2 separate regions of the Homo sapiens genome follow, and region 1 is linked to region 2. The links come from fine-mapping of genetic effects on gene expression. Tissue or cell type: monocytes. Region 2 holds a variant in brackets; the other region holds the start of a gene. All regions are shown on one strand. Distances are from middle to middle.

Evidence for each region. PIP is the estimated chance that this variant, and not a neighbour inherited with it, causes the effect.
Region 1: FAM124A starts here. The variant in region 2 is fine-mapped to the expression of FAM124A in monocytes (Quach 2016, PIP 0.95).

Annotation. Positions count from the first base shown.
Region 1 is chr13:51,217,717-51,228,182 of GRCh38, reverse strand. It overlaps FAM124A (family with sequence similarity 124 member A), which reads right to left and starts at 5,785. Exons shown (of 4, transcript NM_001242312.2): 1 at 5,614-5,785. The coding sequence starts at 5,681. RefSeq lists silencers at 5,837-5,896, 6,017-6,066 and an enhancer at 5,847-6,637.
Region 2 is chr13:51,167,795-51,178,260 of GRCh38, reverse strand. It overlaps a transcript of C13orf42 not described here. Among named protein-coding and RNA genes, the nearest start is that of FAM124A, 49 kb to the left of the region's middle. RefSeq lists enhancers at 2,598-3,516, 3,517-4,436, 7,197-8,116, 8,117-9,036, 9,037-9,956. The variant A/G (reference allele first, on the strand shown) is at 4,884.

The DNA of each region.
Region 1 (10,466 bases), 50 kb before region 2:
TTTTCCAGGAAAATCATGGCATAAGAATTGATCTTGGCATTCCTGTAAAATTGATCTTGATGTTTCTGTAAAACATCAGCTATTGAGCATCATGAACTTCTTCTGTTAACCCTCATTGCACTGAATTAAATTTAGTGTTAACTAGCTCCACCTTGAATACAAAGATAACAAAGTACTAACAAACGATCTGGTCTTCTATACAGCATTTCCCCTTTCATCTTTTTAAAAGACCTATCCCATTTAAAAATTCATCCCACCTATTCTTTTCCACCCACCTATTTAAAGTCTAGACCCCTGATTTTTTGTTATGTCTTAAGTCACAGCGAAGTATCAATTGGAGGTCCTCCAAAGAAACAGGGCATGGTATGGCCCTACAGGTTCAGAAGCTCAGTGACAGCTGAGATGGAAGTGGAAGTTCATTAATGCCAGACCAAACTATTGAATGAAAATAACCCATCACATACAAAAGAGTGGCTTACATGCCAAATCTTGAAGACATCACTAATGAAACAGTCATTATAAAGCACTGGCTTTTATTTGGGTTTACAAGGAACTGGCTGTCCTTCTATTTAAGGGATTCTGTTTCTTAAGATAGTTTACCACCATCAGCAGCCGACTTGCCAGTTTTTGCTAACAGAAAGTACATAAAAGCACAAGGCATCTTTCAAGTGGATTTGGAAAATGGGAGTTTCAAAATGATATCAATTGCTACAGAAGAATACTAGTTTGCTTTTAGTCTTGGCCTGTATTAGGTGGGTGAGACAGCAGCAGCAGCATTTCAAGCAAAAGAAAATGTCTGAGCAGAAAACAAGAATTAATTACAGATCAGACAGCTCCTGGAGAGGCAACTTCACTAGGTGGGAAGCATACTGGAGATCCAGGCTTCAATTCATGCCTCTAACGAGCCATGTGCCCTCTGAGTCTCCATTTCCTCATCTGTAAAATATAATTATTAGAATAGTGAGGCATGCCCTGTAGTCTCTCAGATGCTCTGAATGATCAAATTACTTAAGGTATTTAAAAGCAACAGAGGATCTATTGTGATGAGTTTGAAAAACATATGGTCTTGAGTTCACCATTTTTATTAAATAAAACTCTAAGTTTATAATTTGGAGTGTTCCTCATAACAATAATAATATAGTATGGTGAGAAATAATCATGTACTAAGGGTTCTAGACACTGAACAGCCACTGTTCTAGGGGCTTTAAATATATATGCTCATTTAATCCTCACACCAACCCTAGAAGGTAGGTACTACTATCGTCATCCCTCTTGTACAGAGGAGGAAACTGAGAGCAGAGAGAGGTTAAGTCACTGGATCAAGGTTTCACAGTCCCTAAGTGGAGGAGCCAGAATATGAATGCAAGCAGGCTGGCTCTTGTGACTGTAACTTTCAAAGTGGCCAACATGGCCACTGGCAGTGGGACCCACAAAGTTTCTCGGAACTGTTTCTTCCATCATGCCACTGAAAGGATAATCAGCTTAAGCAATACCCTGACAGCCCTTGTTTCTGTGTTTTGTTCACACCCCCTTACCCCAAATTCTGATGATCCTAACTACCCACTCTCTCTCTCTGCCTGACCCTAGGTAGTTGAGCATTGCTGCGAGAAAATAAATAACAACGGGAACTCGTACCCCTTGTTATTTATTTAAATACGTAATTGCAAATTTCAACTGGGCACCCACTCAACATTGCCCCAAACAACTATTCAAATCTCCATTCTCCTCAGATGATGGAGGGCTGTATTTACACCAAAGAGAAACCCCATCTTGCCTGCCCTTCTAATTGCAGGAGGGGATGTCCTGCCTCCTACCTAAAGCCATCCATCCCCCTGTGGTATGAAGTCCATCTGCCTCCACTTTTTCAGAATGCTGACACTATAGGGCCAGAAGCAGTGGCTCACAACTATAATCCTAGTGCTTTGGGAGGCCAAGGTGGAAGGACTGCTTGAGGCCAGGAGTTTAAGACAGTTTCTGAGCAACATAGCAGGACCTTGTGTTTATAAAAATAAAAAAATTAGCTGGGCATGGTGTCGGTGGTGCGGGCCTGTAATCCCAGCTACTTAGGAGGCTGAGGTGGGAGGATTACTTGAGCCTTGGAATTTGAGGTTGCAGTGAGCCATGATTCCACCAATGCACTCCAGCCTGGGTGACAGAGAGACCTGTCTGTTAAAAAAAAAAAAAAAAAAAAAAAAAAAAAAAAAAAGAAAGCAAGCAAGCAACATTACAGATTATCATCTTTTCTCCTCCTTCTCCTTCCCCCTTCTATAGAATCCTTTCTATCACACTGATTGCTCAATTAGCACCTATATTTAAGAAATCTTTCTTCACTCCACTCTCCCCTTTAGCTACTGCCTCTTTTTGCCTCTCCTTTTTCCAGACAAAGGAATCCACCTGTCTCCTTTTCTTCACCTTCTACTGCCTTCTAGAGCCACTCTAATCTGGCTCCTGCCTCCACCACCCCGCTGTGAAATACCACTCTTCCTTCACTTCATCATCTCCATTTAAAAAAGACATTTAGCGTTCCTCATCTTCATTAGTTTCTCAGTAGCATAGTTGATCTCTCCTTCCTTTCTCAAAAACTCAAACCTCCCTTGGCTTCAATGATTCATATTCTTCTTTCTTTGACTCCAAGTCTACTCTTTCTCAGGCTCCTTTATCAGCTCATTCTCATTGACTGGGCGTTTAAATATAGTTTCTCAAGGCTGGTCTTAAAAAGCACCTGCTGCACAGAGTTGTTGAAGGATTCGAGGAGTCCATGAAATACATAAAGGCTTAGAACAGTAGGTGGCACATACTAAATGCTAAGAAAGTGCTTGCTATTACCTTCAGTTGATTTAGTCTCTCCCAGAGCTTCCATTGCCATTTTTAGGTAAATAGTACCCAAATGCAATGTCATCATGAAGACCTCCCTTCTGAGTTCCAGACAGATATACCCAACTGCTGATTCATCATCTTTACTTGGATGTCTTGCAACACCTCAGACACAGTGTGTTGAAAATGAAATGTCTCATATCTTGCCCAAACTTGGTTTGGAATAGATCACCAGCTACTTTGAGAATCTGATAAAAAAAAAAAGTTCTCTTCTCATACAAATTCACAAAGCACATCATTTTGCATACAACTTGAAGGAATTCATGGACCCCAAATTAAGGATCACTGCCTTAGCAGATGTGTCACTTGAGCTGAGTCCTGAAAGAAGAGTAGAGTTTCACCTGGCAGACAGGCAAGTCAGGTGGGAAGGGCAGAGCTGGCAAAGAGGGCAGCTTGACAAAGGCGAGGAAACAGAAAAATACAAGGCGCAAAGAAGGACCTGCTGAGAAACAAGGCCAGGGAGGGAAGAAGGGACTCCATAACAGGAGTCAGGGCATATAGGCCACGTTAAATTCCTTGCATTTGTAGATAACAGAGCCATAAAAGTTTGAAAGGGAGAGACATGATCAGATTTGCATTTTAAAAATACTAACGATAGCAAACACTTGTTGTCTTCTATGTGCTTTCTACATAATCTCTGTGAAAGCTGGATAGGGTAAGGGGTGGGGGCAAGCTCTGGAAAAGCAGGGAAACGATGAACAGCTTTTTGATAACTGAAATTCAAGGGCTCTGTGAATATATGGCAAACACAAAACTAATTAGCATACATTGAAATGCATGCTATTTTACCTTTAGCTTAAGGATACTAGTGATACAGTAAGAATTCCTTTTTTTTTGGAGATGGAGTTTTGCTCTTGTTGCCCATGCTGGAGTGCAATGGCGTGATCTCAGCTCATGGCAACCTCCGCCTCCCGGGTTCAAGCGATTCTCCTGCCTCAGCCTCCCGAGTAGCTGGGATTACAGGCATGCGCCACCACACCTGGCTAATTCTGTATATTTTTTAGTAGGGATGAGGTTTCTCCATGTTGGCCAGGCTGGTCTCAAACTCCCGACCTCAGGTGATCCGCCCACCTCGGCCACCCAAAGTGCTGGGATTATAGGCGCGAGCTACCGCACCTGGCCAAGAATTCTTTAAACAATTCTGTCCTGTTACAACTACACATTTTAGTGACAGAGGCTGAGAACAGAAGCTCTGGTGTCAGCAGGAGTGGGGAGCCCCTCCCAGGAGGCCTGGCCGCTGTCATGCTGATGTCCAGATCCTGGGGCGATGTCACCCCCTGGGTCCAGGACTTCCTCTCCCTTCTCTAAGACAGAGCCCTTGAAAAAAATATCAGTTTTAGGTGAGTTCTGCAAATTGAAAATGAATAGACTAGTGAATGCTTTATTTAACGCAGTTACAAATAAGCTGGTTAATTTTGCTTTGTTTCTTCTATTCATGGTCCAGCTAACTAATGGCAGAAAAAAAAAGCCAATAATCTTGTTAAAGTTGATAAATGCCACTTACACAAAGAGTGGGAAGAAGAAAGGAAGTTTGGCATTTAGCATCAGGTTACTCCACCAGATTATAATTGGGTGCTGTAGAGAGCTATGAATAAGTTTGGATAACAGAGAAAGCCCATTGCTGGGTGAATGCCCTAGGGAGTAAAGTCCCGCATTTGGGCTAGGAGTGGTGGGGCAGGAGGGGCCCTGTGGGGAGCTTTGCCGGGGTTGGGTTAGAACTCTGGGTCGATCGTGGGCCTGGATTCTCTACCTGCCCTCACAGGGTTGCCAAATCCTGAGATTAGTCTAAAACCTCTCCGACCTTCCAGGAATGAGGCTTTCTGTAGTCTAGGCAGCTCCCGCCCTCCCCCAGGATTACTCCAGATAGGAAAAAACACCCTTTCCTCCTGGGTCAGTACCCGCGGCCTGGATGTGGTGCTGACTCTGCACAGGAAAGTCCTTTAGAGACAGAGGCTGCCTGGAAGCCTTTATAACGACATTCATCTCCTAAAAGGCATTTTGTCTTTTCTTCCGCTCAGGAAAACAGTGTTTGGAGACTAACTAATTAGTCTCCAAAGGTTTGAGCCCATTGTTTGAGTCCGCTGAAGCGAAGAGAATATTAAAAAAAAAAAAAGGCAGGGCTAGATCCTAATCCCAACACCATCTCCATCCCGCCGGTACAACAGGCCAAAGGGTCCAGCTGGGACAGGTGCACTTAGAGGTGAGGAAGTTCGGCGGGACTGGAGGAGTCGGGGAGGGGGACTCGGCAGCACAGATTAAAGTCCCACGATGAAGCCATATAACGAGAAATGCCATCCTCCTAGCCGACTTCGGAAAGACTTTTAGGTGCGGGTGTCCCACCCTGCTTTTCTTCCTCTCCCGATCTCCAGGGCCGGACTCCAGGGGGCTCCGGAGCTACAGGAGGAAAGTCCCCGAGGAAGGAGGAAACAAGTGCAAGAGCATCTCCTGTCTCTAGCGATGCAGACAAGGGGTCTTTGCATCCGCCTGGCGCTCTGCATCGCCTCACAGGATGGGTGGGCTTGCACTGAACCTTGAGTCCTTCCACTTTCCTCCCCCCGGGTGGTGCCCGCCCTGCCCAGGGCAGCGCGGCCCGCCCAGGAGAGAGCGGGGGATCCGGCAGGAGGAGAAGCCCCGCGCCCCGGTCCCGTCGCACGGATCAGGAGGGTCCCCGTCCGGGGAGGAGCCGCCGCGCAACTCGGAGAGCGCCCCCCGCCCGCGGCCCGGCCCGGCGCGGCTCACCCTCCGGTCTCGGCGCCCGAGTCCACGCAGTCGTCCTCCTCGCCGCCGCCGCCCGCCTTTGGGTCCATGGTGCACGTCCCGGCCGCGCTCGGCTTGCGGGCGCCGTCGTGACCCGGGGCGCCCTCCCTCCCGGCCGCCCAGTCCGAGCCGGCCGGGCTCCCTCCGAGCGTCTGGCGGCCCGGGAGCCGGCAAACAACTCAAGCGCCAGCCGCGAACCCCGCGCCGCGCCCTCTCCCGACCGCGCCCGGCTGGGCACCCGCGCCTGCGCCCGCGCCCGCCCCGCCCCTCGCCGTCCGGCGGGACCCGCGTGTGCGCGCGGCGGTGCGCGGGGAGTGCGCGTGCGAGCGCGTGTGCGAGCGCGTGGGGGGCGTGTGAGCGTGAGTGGCCGAGGTGTGTGGTCTCACACCCGTGCGTCTGTGCATGCGGTGTGATGTGGGTGCGGTGTGCACTCCTGGTTGCACGCGACTGTGGCTGTGCTGAGCGCGTGTGCCCGTCTGTGGTGCGTGACCGCGTGTGTGTTGTGGGGGCGGGGTAAGTGTGCACACGAGAGCCGCCTCTCTCCCCCAGGCCCACAGTCCGGGAATCCCGAGCCCCAGGGCTTGCCACGAGGTTCCCCACCTCCTGATCTGGGAGGAGCACTGAGAAAACCAACCTCAGCGCATCGTGAAAGCTGGGAAGGATTTGTTTCCCTTTTGGGACCAATTCGAACACCTGGGTGTTTTCTTATAGTTTCTGAAGAATTGCTGACGCCAAATTCATTATCACCTTTCTCAGTACACGTCTGAGCGGCATCCCACCCCCTCAACTTGCCAGTTTACAATAGGTGTCATGCATTCTTTTGCTACTTAAAAAAAAAAAAGCCTTTAAAAATAATTTAAAGAGCATTGAATGAACCTGCAATTCACGGGTTGTTGCAGCAAGGGGATAACCTTAGGGTGAGTTAATGATCGCTATTGGAGGGGCTCACCTCCTATTAGGAGGGTGAAGAGGGAGGCAAGTTGGCAGGGCGGGCGGAAGGAGACTTCGAACAACTTGAATTTAGTTCTGACAGCCCTATCCAAACCATTGGGAGGAATTGTCCTTACTGAGCCTAAAATTTCTTGCACCCCAAACAGCAATGGACATATTGGTGGGCATTAGCTGAAAGAAAGGAGCGTGCCAGTTCTTCAAGGGAGATTCCCCTGCCCATTTTTTATCTTGCAGCCAGGAGGGAACCTGCCTTTATTTACTCTGTGTGGGAACAATTCAAACTGTGCCTCATTTGATCCTCAGGGAAGTGCTGTGAAACAGGCTTACTTTTCTATTTTACCGTCAAGGAAACTAAACCCTACCGAGTTCGAGTGCCTGGTCCCAGGACACCCTATCAGTGAGCAGGGAAGCCAGGTAGTCCACTTAAGGTAGCTGGAGCCTGTGCCACTTACCTAGAAGGCTGATGAGTGGGCCAGTTGTATCCTCAGGAAGATGGTACTAAGGAAAAGGCCAGGGAAGAAAGGGTGAAATCAGCATGACTTTTAGAAGATGGGCTTTGGAAAATGAGATGCTATTTAAATGATTTCTGCCTTTCTCAAATATCCAGAGAAAGGGCATGCCAGACCAAAACCTCAAGCCACATCTCAAAATGATGCATGGATTCAGGTTCCCCTCGCCCACAGGGGACACAGTGTTATCATTCATCATTGGCATAGCAGTCTAATGGCAACTCAGTGATGCATTTATTATATGGAAGAGAAGCTTGAACGGTATCACTGTATTCTAGTGATGCATGGCTTTCTGCTTCAGTTCCCAGGTTTTAAAAGCCTCACTTCATTTTTTGCTTGTTTGTTTGAGACAGGGTCTTACTCTGTTGCCCAGGCTAGAGTACAGTGGCACAATCACAGCTCACTACAGCCTCCACCTCCCTGATTCAAGTGATCCTCCCAGCCTCCTGAGTAGCTGGGACTACAGGCGTGCCACCATGCCCAGCTGAGTTTTAATTTTTTTGTAGAGAAAAATATGTTGCCTAGGCTGGTCTCGAACTCCTGGCCTCAAGTGATCCTCCTGCCTCGGCCTCTCAAAGTGCTGGGACTATAGGCATGAGGCATTGCACCTGGCCCATTTTTTGGGAGGGCGGGGTATAAGAGTTGCTGGCAGGTAACCAGCACAAGAACCTTCAAGTGATCACTGCAGGGTATCTAGCCCCTAAACTTACATGGTTCCCACACTCCATAGTCCAGCTGTTTAATGTCAGTCTCTTTAATCATGGGGGTACGATGCTCTCCTCCACCCCTTTAAGATGGGGACAGAAAAGTGTCACTGGTCTGCTTAGGGTGTCTTGACTGCTGCCCTAAAGATATTCCTATCAGAGCCTGAGAACAGTGTTGGGGGAATACTGAGGTATGGCAGGAAGTGTAACAGGCTAGGAAACATGAAACCTGACTTCTGGATCGGAATCCATCATGTACTAGTTCTTTAAACTCTCGATAGAGAAAAAGGATAGACCATCAACTGTTTCCAAAGTTCTTACTACATGTCAGTCTTTGTGGTAAGGATTTTACATACATGATTTATTTAAATCTCACAAAATTCTTGTGAGGCTTCCTTTGTCCTTAAAATGGGGTTGTTGATATAAATCTCACAGGAGATTCAAAGCCCCTTAGAAACTACGAAGCATATGAATAAAAGATATTGCTGATTTTTTAATCACTTTTTCTCAGAAAGGTCTGAACATCAATCTTTTGTTGTATTTCACCTATAAAGCATGTTTCAGTCTCTGTTTATATTATTGCATGTGTTGGTGTGTTAGAAAACAAGGCAGTTCATTCATTTATTTATTGAACACTCAGTGTGTACTAGGCAGGGGCTGGTGCTGGGGATATGTTGAGGAATAGGCCAGAGCTATTTTCTGGCCTAATGGAGCTTTTTGGGTCAAGAGAAGGCAAGGCCAATGGGCATGGCTGGCCTTCCCACCAGGCACCTGAGAGGTATGTAGTGCCATCAGCCATTAGAATAGGACTGGAATGCCAAAGCCCTGTCTTGGAGGAAAAAACTTAAGATAATCGGATGGTAAATAGAGTCCATCAACTTTGCTGATGAAAGAGATGGATTAGTAATTAAGAAGGCCAAGAGTAATTGGGAGGGGGCCAAAAAAAGAGGAGCTAAGTAGCTTTAAGATAAGAACTTTACAGCAAGAGACTGAAAACAGATAAAAATAAATATCTCCAGAACATAGAATTTGCCCAGATTTGGATTTCAGTTTAGAGGGAAGCTAGGCCACTTTCATTGCATCTGTACCATTTGCTATTAGGCGAGCTTGATTTAGTCCCTTAAGTAAAATATTTGTTAGGGTTATCCAGTAGCAAATAGAACCAGAAAATATATTGGTCTGGAAACTTTTGCTCATTCATTTTAATTAATTAATTACTTTTTGAAAACACATTTCCCAGAAACAAAAATTACAGGTTAAAGAATGACATTAAAATTAAAAAAAAAGAAATCTCTTTCTTCCAAGACTCCAGAAGAGTCTGTCTAATGTGAAAAATAAATATTATGATCATGAGAAGAAAATTTATAAACTATTGACAAATCTACTTAGACAAAGAAAGCCACTAGCCCTACATGCAAACATAAGGGGACCAGATGGCAAAGGGATAAATGAAATGAAAGATAAACTGTTGTGTTGGGAAATAATCTCATTAAAATATAAATGACTCCACTTTGATAAGGAAGAGCACAGATAGTGGTCCTGCCTTGGAGGCTTCCCAAGAATTCTCAGCCTGCAGTTTATACCCGGACGAGATCTGGAGTCCAAGTCAGACATCAGACCACCCACCCACTGTGACCCCCAACAACTGGTGGGTGGGTGGGCGTAAAATGAGATGGGAATGTGAAAGGCTGGCTTCCGGAAATGTGCTGTGGAAATTTAAGAATCAAAGGGAACCTTAGACTCAGGGCACTGCCCTCCAGTCCCCCGTGAATAGACACGCCTCCTGGGAACTGTGGCTAAGTCACCCATTTATGGTTCTACGAATAACCTAGGCTTGGAAAGCTTTGGCCTTCCGTCCACTTTCATCCTGACACTTTCCTTCAGGCACCTGGTCCTCCCCAGCTCCAACGGCCTGATAGTCAGCTTGGCCTGCCATTACAAAGTACCACAGACAGCATGGCTTCAACAATAGAAGTTGATTTCGTCACAGTTCTGGAGGCTGGAGGTAGAAGATCATGGTGTCAGCAGGATAGGTTTCTTTGGAGGCCTCTCCTTGGCTTGCAGACGGCTGCCTTCTTGCTGTATCTTTCTTCTATCTGTGTGCATCCTTGGGTCTCTTTGTGTGTCCATATTTCCTTTTCTTGTAAATTAAACAGTCAGATTAGATGAAGACCAACTCTAATGGCCTCTTTGTAACTGAATCACTTTCTTTCTTTCTTTCTTTCTTTCTTTCTTTCTTTCTTTCTTTCTTTCTTTCTTTCTTTCTTCTGTCTCTCTCTCTCTCTCTCTTTCTTTCTTTTTTTTTTTGAGATGGAGTCTCGCTCTGTCGCCAGGCTGGAGTGCAGTGGCACAATCTTGGCTCACTGCAACCTCCACCTTCCGGGTTCAAGCGATTCTTCTGCCTCAGGCTCCCGAGTAGCCGGGACTACAGGTGTGCACCACCACACACAGATAATTTTTGTATTTTTAGTAGAGACGGGGTTTCACCATGTTGGCCAGGATGGTCACGATCTCTTGACCTTGTGATCTGCCCACCTTGGTCTCCCAAAGTGCTGGGATTACAGGCATGAGCCACCACGCCCAGCCCTGAATCACTTCTTTAAAGACCCTGTCTCAAAATACAGTCGCATTCTGAGGTACTGGGGATTAGGATATTACCACATTAATTTTG
Region 2 (10,466 bases):
TGATGGGTGTCATTGTGAGGCTGGGAGACTTTGATTCAATAAGCTTTTCATTTTTCTTTTTCTTTTTTCTTATTTTTCTTTTGAGATGGAGTTTCGCTCTTGTTGCCCAGGCTGGAGTGTAATGGCCTGATCTCGGCTCATTGCAACCTCCGCCTCCTGGGTTCAAACAATTCGCCTGCCTCAGCCTCCCAAGTAGCTGGGATTACAGGCATGCGCCACCACACCTGGCTAATTTTGCAGTGGGAAAGGACTCAGATAGATGGGTTTGGCACAATCTTTTTGTATTTTTGTAAAAATCTTTTGTATCTTGTAAAAATCTTGTATTTTTAGTAGAGATGGGGTTTCTCCATGTTAGTCAGGCTGGTCTTGAACTCCCGACCTCAAGTGATCCTTCCACCTCGGCCTCCCAAAGTGCTGGGATTACAGGCGTGAGCCACTGCACCCAGCTATTTTTATTTTTTCAATGGGCTTTTTAGGTATTACCTTGTAGCAGGGGCATCTGAGTTGGGAAAAAGACTCTGAGACCTCTCCACCAAGTAGAACAAACAATGGGATTACAGGCCCAGGTCATGGAGGCTTGAGACATTCAGTTTAGTTCCAGAGAGTTTGGAGAATGCAGCAGACATGTGACTACAGCATGTATAGAGGTAGACACTGGATTGGAAATGTCAATCTTTGAAATCTAGTGTAGGGGACAAAGATGGGTTAGAGATCTATAGAAAAGGTATGTGAGTGTTTATGTGTGTGTGTTTGGTGGGAGCTGCAGTCTGAAATAATGGCACATGGATTTGGCTATTCAGGACAGTTGGGAATGTGGAAGGTGTGGGGGTTTTGTAGTTCATTCCTTTGCACTGTCTGCATCCTGGAGGACAGGTCACTTCCTCCTGCTCATTGAGTTGTAGTTGGTTGTTTGCTACACATTGTCATTTCACTTCTTCGGGGTTTATTTCATTGCTTGGTATCTATGTTTGTACTAATTGAAGTATCTGGCCATTAATTAAAAACAAGCAAACAAACAAACATGTAATGCCATAGATTCATATGGGAAAACTGAGGCTGACCAAAATTTGATGGAGCCAGTAGATGGTAGAACTCAGACTAAAACTAGTGGCTCCTGACTTCATGTTTTGTGACCTTTTCTGTGTTCAAGGGTATATCTGCTCACCAGCATCTAAATGTAAACCAAACACAACTGTCTATTATTATAACTTCCCCCTCTAGTCTTCAAGTTATATTGAACCAGTTTTTCTGTAAGACAGACATAAAGCTGCAGACACAGCCACTTTCCCTGAAATTAAAAGAATTAGTTGCTGTGAAATGCAAACAAAATTCAGAGCTGGTTGGACCAACCATGGACACTTGCCAAGCTTCTACTATACGTAAGGTACTCTAATATGGTTCCAAATTTTCTGGGACAATTCTTCGAGTTATATAATTCTTCCACATTTTTACTCCTCTGGTATCTATTGAGCTGACTTTTTCCCATATGCTTATTGCTCTTTTATATTTATTTGTTTGTGAATTTGTATATCATTGCTTTTACTTTTCCTATTGCATGAGGTCTGAGTTACCGTTCGCTGAATAGTTGTTAATGCTTAGAAAAATTAAAGACTTTGCTTGTGCTACTAAGGGGCTGAGCTGGCACCTGGCCTTGATTCTCTTTGATTTCAAAGCCACTATGTTCACATCCATATTTTCAGGACGTTCCTAAAAAAAGGGACATTCACCCAAAAGGTTAAAAATTAAATGAATGCAGCATGTGCTTCTCTAATACACATTACTTCATCACTGCATCTTAGAAACGATAATATCTACCCTAACAGGCCCTTGGATGTTGCTAAGGTTTTTTATTTTCAAAATTTCTTAATTTCATATATTTCTTTGAATGCAAAATTATTAGCTTTTGAAGGTGTTCTGTAACCAATAAGGGTTTCCCACCAAAATGTGTTATTCTTGTGTTTACCTAAATTCCTTTGAGAGAATACTTGATCCTAAAGAGGGATATGGGGAGAAAATATAACCTTCTGAAAAAAGAGATTTTAGTTAAGCTATAGCCTTGGTCATGGTGGCAGAGATCTGAAATGATAGTTGATTAAACAAGATAGAGATTTCTTTCTCTTTCATGTCATAGTTGGTATATTAGTTTGTTCTCACATTGCTATAAACAACTACCTGAAACTGGGTAATTTATAAAGAAAAGAGGTTTAATCAGCTTACAGTTCCACAGGCTGTACAGGAAGCATGGTTGGGAGGCCTCAGGAAACTTACAATCATGGCAGAAGGCAAAGAGGGAGGAGGCACGTTTTACATGGCTAGAGCAGGAGAAACAGAGAGAGGAGGAGAGGTGTTACATACTTTTAAACAACCACATCTCATGAGAACTCATTCACCATCATGAGAACAGCAAGGGGAATGTCTGCCCCCATGATCCAATAACCTTCCACCAGACCCCTACCCCAACATTGGGGATTACAGTTCAACATGAGATTTGGTCAGGGACACAAATTGAAACCATATTAATTGGTGTGTAAGCAGCCCAGGATTTGTAGGATGGCTTCATGGCATTGGTAATGAGGACCCAAATTTAAACCATATAATTCCACCCCAACCCCTCCCAAATATCATGTCCTTCTCACACTACAAAATACAATAATCTCTTCTCAACAGTCCCCTAAATTTTAACTCATTTCAGTGTTAACTCAAAAGTCCACAGTCCAAAGTCTCATCTGAGACAAGGCAAGTCCCTTCTGCCCATGAGTCTATAAAATAAAAAAACAAGTTAGTTACTTCCAAGATACAATAGGGGCACAGGCATTGGCTAAACACTCCCATTCCAAAAGAGAGAAATCAGGCAAAACAAAGAGGCTACAGGCCACGTGCAAGTTCAAAACCCAGCAGGGCAGCCATTGAATCTTAAAGCTCCAAAATAATCTCTTTTGACTCCATGTCTCACGTCCAGGCTACACTGATGCAAGGGCTGGGCTCTCAAGGCCTTGGGAAGCTCCACCCTTGTGGTTCTGCGGGATACAGTCCCCTCGACTGCTTTCACCGGCTGGCTGGCATTGAGTGCCGGTGGCTTTTCCAGAAGCACAGTGCAAGCTGTCAGTGGATCTACAATTCTGGGGTCCGGAAGACAGTGACCCTCTTCTCACAGCTCCACTAGGCGGTGCCCCAGTGGGGATTCTGTGTGGGGGACTCCAAGCCTGCATTTCCCCTCCACTTTGCCCTAGTAGAGTTTCTCCATGAGGACTCTTTCATGCGTGTCCGTGTGAAGAGACCACCAAACAGGCTTTGTGTGAGCAACATGGCTGTTTATTTCACCTGGGTGCAGGCGGGCTGAGTCCGAAAAGAGAGTCAGCGAAGGGAGATAAGGGTGGGGCCGTTTTATAGGATTTGGGTAGGTAAAGGAAAATTACAGTCAAAGGGGGTTTGTTCTCTGGCGGGCAGGAGTGGGGGTCGCAAGGTGTTCAGTGGGGGTGCTTTCTGAGCCAGGATGAGCCAGGAAAAGGACTTTCACAAGGTAATGTCATCAGTTAAGGCAAGGACCGGCCATTTACACTTCTTTTGTGGTGGAATGTCATCAGTTAAGGTGGGGCAAGGCATATTCACTTCTTTTGTGATTCTTCAGTTACTTCAGGCCATCTGGGCATATACGTGCAAATCACAGGGGATGCGATGGCTTGGCTTGGGCTCAGAGGCCTGACATTCCTGCCTTCTTATATTAATAAGAAAAATAAAACAAAATAGTGTTGAAGTGTTGGGGCGGTGAAAATTTTTTGGGGGGTGGTATGGAGAGAGAATGGGCGATGTTTCTCAGGGCTGCTTCGAGCGGGATTAGGGGCGGCGTGGGAACCTAGAGTGGGAGAGATTAAGCTGAAGGGAGGTCTTGTGGTAAGGCGTGATATTGTGGGGATGTTAGAAGAAACATTTGTCATATAGAATGATTGGTGATGGCCTGGATACGGTTTTGTATGAATTGAAAAACTAAATGAAATAACAGAAGGAGAAAAACAGGTATAAAAGGCCTAAGAATTGGGACAACTCAGGATGTCTGATTAGAGAGTGCCTAAGGAGATTCAGCATAGTCCTGCCAGCAAAGATTATTTATGTACTTCAAGAGTTAAGAGTGGCAGTTTGGGGATAGCACCAGGAGATATCAGCTGTGATGGCTTGGAAAAACAGTGTAAACTGGCAGTGTAAACAAGAGCAGGGCATGTATGAGTAGTTGAGAACGGTGAATAGCAGTATGACTAGACAGAAAATAGTAGGGATGACAAGTTTTTTTTTTTGGGATTTTTTTTTTTTGAGGCACAGTCTAAGTTGGTCTGGTGTCTGGAATGAGACTGGGGCCTAATAAAAAGGAGCATCTATACAGGACCTTAAATGGGCTGTACCCTGTAGCATTCTGAGGACAGGCCTGAATTCTGAGAAGGGAAAGTGGTAAAAGTATTGTCCAGTCCTTTTTAAGTTGGTGGCTGAGCTTGGTGAGGTGTGTTTTCTTGAAGATGGAGGACTATAAGGGATATAAAGGTTTCACTGAATACTAAGAGCCTGAAAAACTGCTTGGCTGATTTGACTAATAAAGGCTCGTCTGTTATCAGACTGTATTGAGGTGGGAAGGCTAGACTGAGGAATTATGTCTGACAGAAGGGAAGAAATGACTGCGGTGGCCTTCTCAGACCCTGTATGAAAGGCCTCTACTTATTTTGAGGGCCTCTATAAGTATTAAAGCAGCGGCAGCCGCTGCACGCAGACATGAGGGCTAGGCTAAAACAGTAAGGTCAAGTTGTTTGGACAGAAAGGCTACAGGGTGTGGTCCTGGCTCTTGTGTAAGAATTCTGACCGCGCTAACCACGCCTAGGAAGGAAAGGAGTTGTTGTTTT[A/G]TAGAAGGTGCTTGGGTTTGAGAGATCAGTCGGACGCGATTGGCAGGGAGAGCACGTGTGTTTTTATGAGAATTATGCCGAGATAGGTAACAGATGAGGAAGAAATTTGGGCTTGATTGAAGTAATGGGGGCTGTCTGAGAAGCTTTGCGGCAGTACAGCCTAGGTAATTTGCTGAGCTTGATGGGTGTCAGGGTCAGTCCAAGTGAAAGCAAAGAGAGGCTGGGATTAAGGGTGCAAAGGAATAGTAAAGAAAGCATGTTTGAGATCTAGAACAGAATAATGGGTTGTAGAGGCAGGTATTGAGGACAGGAGAGTATACGGGTTTGGCACCACGGGGTGGATAGGCAAAACAATTTGGTTGATAAGGTGCAGATCCTGAACTAACTTGTAAGGCTTGTCTGGTTTTAGGACAGGTAAAATGGGGGAATTGTAAGGAGAGTTTATAGGCTTTAAAAGGCCATGCTGTAGCAGGCGAGTGATAACAGGCTTTAATCTTTTTAAAGCGTGCTGCGGGATGGGATATTGGCGTTGAGTGGGGTAAGGGTGATTAGGTTTTAATGAGATGGTAAGGGGTGCATGATCGGTCGCCAAGGAGGGAGTAGAGGTATCTTATACTTGTGGGTTAAGGTGGGGGGATAGAAGAGGAGGACGCAAAGGAGGCTTTGAATTGGGAAGAAGGGCGGCAATGAGATATAGCTGTAGTCCAGGAATAGTCAGGGAAGCAGATAATTTAGTTAAAGTGTCTCGGCCTAATAAGGGAACTGGGCAGGTGGGGATGACTAAAAAGGAGTGCTTAAAAGAGTATTGTCTAAGTTGGCACCAGAGTTGGGGAGTTTTAAGAGGTTTGCCTGGCCGTCAATACCCACAACAGTTATGGAGGCAAGGGAAACAGGCCCTTGAAAAGAGGGTAATGTGGAGTGAGTAGCCTCCGTATTGATTAAGAAGGGGACGGGCTTACCTTCCACTGTGAGAGTTACCTGAAGCTCGGCGTCAGTGACTGTCTAGGGGGCTTCCGAGGTGATCCGGCAGTGTCAGTCTTCAGCCGCTAAGCCGAGAAGATCTGGGAAGGAGTCAGTCAGAGAGGCTTGGGCCAGAGTTCCAGGGGCTCTGGGAGTGGCTGCCAGGTGAGTTGAACAGTCCGATTTTCAGTGGGGTCCCACACAGATGGGACGCGGCTTAGGAGGAATCCCAGGCTGCGGGCATTCCTTGGCCCAGTGGCCAGATTTCTGGCACGTGTAGCAAGCTCCTGTGGGAGGAGGTTCTGGAGGAACGCCTGGCCGCTGCGGTTCAGGCGTTTGGAAGTTCTTGTGTGCTGGAGACGTGGCTGGGGTTTGTCTCACAGTGGAGGCAAGGAATTGCAACTTTTTTCTATTATGGTACACCTTGAAGGTGAGGTTAATTAAATCCTGTTGTGGGGTTTGAGGGCCAGAATTTAATTTTTGGAGTTTTATTTAATATCGGGAGCAGATTGGGTAATAAAATGTATATTGAGCATAAGACGGCCTTTTGACCTTTTAGGGTCTAGGGCTGTAAAGCGTCTCAGGGTTGCTGCCAAACAAGCCATGAACTGGGCTGGATTTTTATATTTGATGAAAAAGAGCCTAAACGCTATCTGATTTGGGGTAAAGAAAAAGGAGCATTAACCTTGACTATGCCTTTAGCTCCAGCCACCTTTTTAAGAGTAAATTGCTGGGCAGGTGGGGGAGGGCTAGTCACCGAACGAAACTGTAAGCCCGACCAGGTGTGAGGAGGGGAGGTGATAAAAAGATTATAGGGTGGAGGAGCAGAGGCTGAGGAAGAATTGGGACCTAGCTCGGCCTGGCCAGGAGCAGCCTGGGGAGGAAGGGAGAGGTCAGATGGGTCTGTAGAAAAGGAAGATTAGAAAGACTCAGCGACGCTTGGGGTTGGTACTGAGGGGACAGGCGGGAGGGAAAGAAGGAAGATTTGGGACGAGTTGCACTGGTCACAGAGACTAGGAAGGGACTGATGTGTAAAAGAATGCCTGGACGTCAGGCACCTCAGACCGTTTGCCTATTTTACGACAAGAATTATTTAGATTTTGCAGGATGGAAAAATTCAAAGTGCCATTTTCTGGCTATTTGGAACTACTGTCGAGTTTGTATTGGGGTCAAACGGCATTGCAGAAGAAAATAAGTCATTTAGGTTTTAGGTCAGGTGTGAGTTGAAGAGGTTTTAAGTTTTTGAGAACACAGGCTAAGGGAGGAGAAGGAGGAATGGAGGGTGGAAGCTTACCCATAGTGAAGGAGGCAAGCCCAGAGAAAAGAGACACGGAGAAGGGTTGGGGGGTTCTTGCCCTCCAGAAAAGCAGAGAAGGGGTTGGGGCACGGAAATAAGGGATGGGGGCACAGAGATAAGAGGTCAGGGTGCGGAAATAAGGGATTGGGGCACAGAGATAAGAGGTTGGGGTGTGGAAATAAGCAACTGGGGGCTTCTTGCCCCCTAGGAAAGCGGGACTTGCCACTAAGGGTGAAGGAGAAGGGATTGAGGGGTACTTGCCCCTGCTCCAGGAAAGCGGGACTTGCCACTAAGGGTGAAGGAGAAGGGGTTGAGGGATACTTGCCCCTGCCCCAGGAAAGCGGGACTTGCCGCTAAGGGTGAAGGACCAAGGCAGGCGTCCCTGCGTGGTCTGACACCCTTGAAACGTGAGTGTATAATCAGAGAGGTGTCCCTGCAATGATTAAACACCAAGGGGAAGGCTGCCTTCCCAGCCCGTGACCGGCGCTGGAGTTTTGGGTTCATGGATAAAACATGTCTCTTTTGTCTCTACCAGAAAATGAAAGGAATTGAAATTAAGAGAAGGGAGAGATTGAAGTGTGGCGCCAAGATTGAAAGGAGAAAGAGGTTGAGGGATAGTGAGGGAGATTGGAGAAGAGAGTAAAAAGAGGCCACTTACCGGATTCGAAATTGGTGAGATGTTTCTTGGGCCGGTCGGTCTGAGGACCTGAGGTCGTAGGTGGATGTTTCTCACGGAGCAAAGAGCAGGAGGACAGGGGATTGATCTCCCAAGGGAGGTCCCCCGATCCGAGTCATGGCACCAAACTTCATGCGCGTCCGTGTGAAGAGACCACCAAACAGGCTTTGTGTGAGCAACATGGCTGTTTATTTCACCTGGGTGCAGGCAGGCTGAGTCCGAAAAGAGTCAGCAAACGGAGATAAGGGTGGGGCCGTTTTATAGGATTTGGGTAGGTAAAGGAAAATTACAGTCAAAGGGGGTTTGTTCTCTGGCGGGTAGGAGTGGGGATCGCAAGGTGCTCAGTGGGGGTGCTTTTTGAGCCAGGATGAGCCAGGAAAAGGACTTTCACAAGGTAGTGTCATCAGTTAAGGCAAGGACCGGCCATTTACACTTCTTTTGTGGTGGAATGTCATCAGTTAAGGTGGGGCAAGGCATATTCACTTCTTTTGTGATTCTTCAGTTACTTCAGGCCATCTGGGCGTATACATGCAAGTCACAGGGGATGCGATGGCTTGGCTTGGGCTCAGAGGCCTGACAGACTCCACCCCTGCAGCAATCTTCCTGGACATTCAAGGATTTCCACACATCCTCTGAAATCTAGGCAGAGGCTTCCAAGCTTCAACTCTCACACTCTGTGTACTTGCAGGCTTAACACCACATGGAAGCTGCCAAGGCTTATGGCTGGCACCCTCTGCCTGAGCTATACCTTGGCCCCTTTTAGCCATGGCTGGAGCTGGGGCAGCCAGGATTCAGGGCACCATGTCCCCAGGCTGCACAGAGTGGCCGGACCTTGGTCCTGGCCCACAAAACTATTCTTTCCTTGTGGGCCTCCAGGCCTGGGATGGGAGGGGCTGCTGCAAAGACCTCTGAAATGCCTTTGAGGCATTTTCCCTATTATGTTGGCTATCAACATTTGGCTCCTCTTTACATATGCAAATTTCTGCAGCTGGCTTGAATTCCTCCACAGAAAATGGGTTTTTCTTTTCTACCACATAGCTGGGCTACAAATTTTCCAAACTTTTACACTCTGCTTCCAGTTTCAGATCATCTGTTTGCTCCTGCATAACAAAAGTGACTTTGGCTCTGGTTCTCAATAAATTCCTCATCTCCATCTGAGACCTCTTCAGCCTGGATTTCGTTGTCCATAGCACTGTCAGTATTTTGGGCACAACAATTTAACAAGTCTCTAGGAAGTTCCAAACTTTCCCTCATCTTCCTGTCTTCTTCTGAGCCCTCTAAACTGTTCTAATCTCTGCTTGTTAAACCAAGTTCCAATGTTGTTTCCACATTTGCAGATATCTCATAGCAATGCCCCACTCCTAAGTACCAATTTTCTATATTAGTCTGTTCTCGCTTTGCTACAAAGAACCACCCGAAACTGGGTTATTTATAAAGCAAAGAGGTTTAATTGGCTCACAGTTCCACAGGCTGTACAGGAAACATGGCTGGTGAGGCCTCAGGAAACTTACAATTATGGCGGAAGGCAAAGAGGAAAGAGGCTTATCTTAGATGGCGAGAGAAGGAGGAAGAGAGAGAGAGCAGGGAGGTGCCACACACTTTTCAACAACTAGATCTCATGAGAACTCACTCACTAATATGAGAACAGCAAGGGGAAAGTCTGCCCCCATGATCCAATCACCTCCCACCTGACCCCTCCTCCAACATTGGGGATTACCATTTGATGTGGGATTTGGGTGGGGACAGACATTCAAACCATATTAGTTGGTATGTAAGCAGCCCAGGATTGGTAGGATGGCTTCATGTCATTGGTGATGGGGACCCATTCTGCATTATTGCTTCCTCTCTGTAGGGAGTTGCCTTTATCTACATAGTCCGAAATAACTCATCATTTTTGCCTAAGATGCCAGTGGGCAGGGGAAGAAAGCCCTTTCCTTTTAATGGGGCAACTTAGAAGAAGCTCACCACTTCCAACTACTTCCCACTTGTCAGAACTTTGCTGCATGACAACGCCATGTTGCAAAGGAGGCTGGGAAATATAGCCTTTATTTGGAGAAACTATTTGTTCAGCTGAAATTGAGAGAGAAGGGACAACAGTTACTAGGAGATAGCTAGCAATCTCTGGCACATAAGACTTTACCAGACAGTGAGAAACTGCACCTCCGATTTATGCAACTGACAGTCTAAACTAGGTTTAAATCTTGGCTTTGCTTCTTGCAAACTGGGCTTTCCTTTGGCACATTTTCTTGTCTGTGAAAAAGAGACCATAAATGGGGAGTAATGCTTATAAGGTGTCTGTTGGAGCATCTGGTACATAGTAGGTGGTCAACAATGAAGTGTCCCTTTTTTCTTCTCCTTTCTAGAAAATATGAAACTCTGGAGAGTCTATCAGGAAGGCTGTGTTGTATAGCCACTGAGGGCTTAGAGCCCACATTTGCTCATGGGAATTTCATCTTCTGGCCGGACATACACACTGAGAGGCAGCAGCTGGATAGCTTAAGATAAATGATTTTGAAAGATTCTCTGAGCATACAGAGCTCACAGAGATTAAAGGTAAAAGCCACAAGGCAGCAGGATGTACAATACAACCAAAGCCTGGCAATCAAGTTAGACACATATGTTATCTTCCATCATACCTGGGTAGAATCAG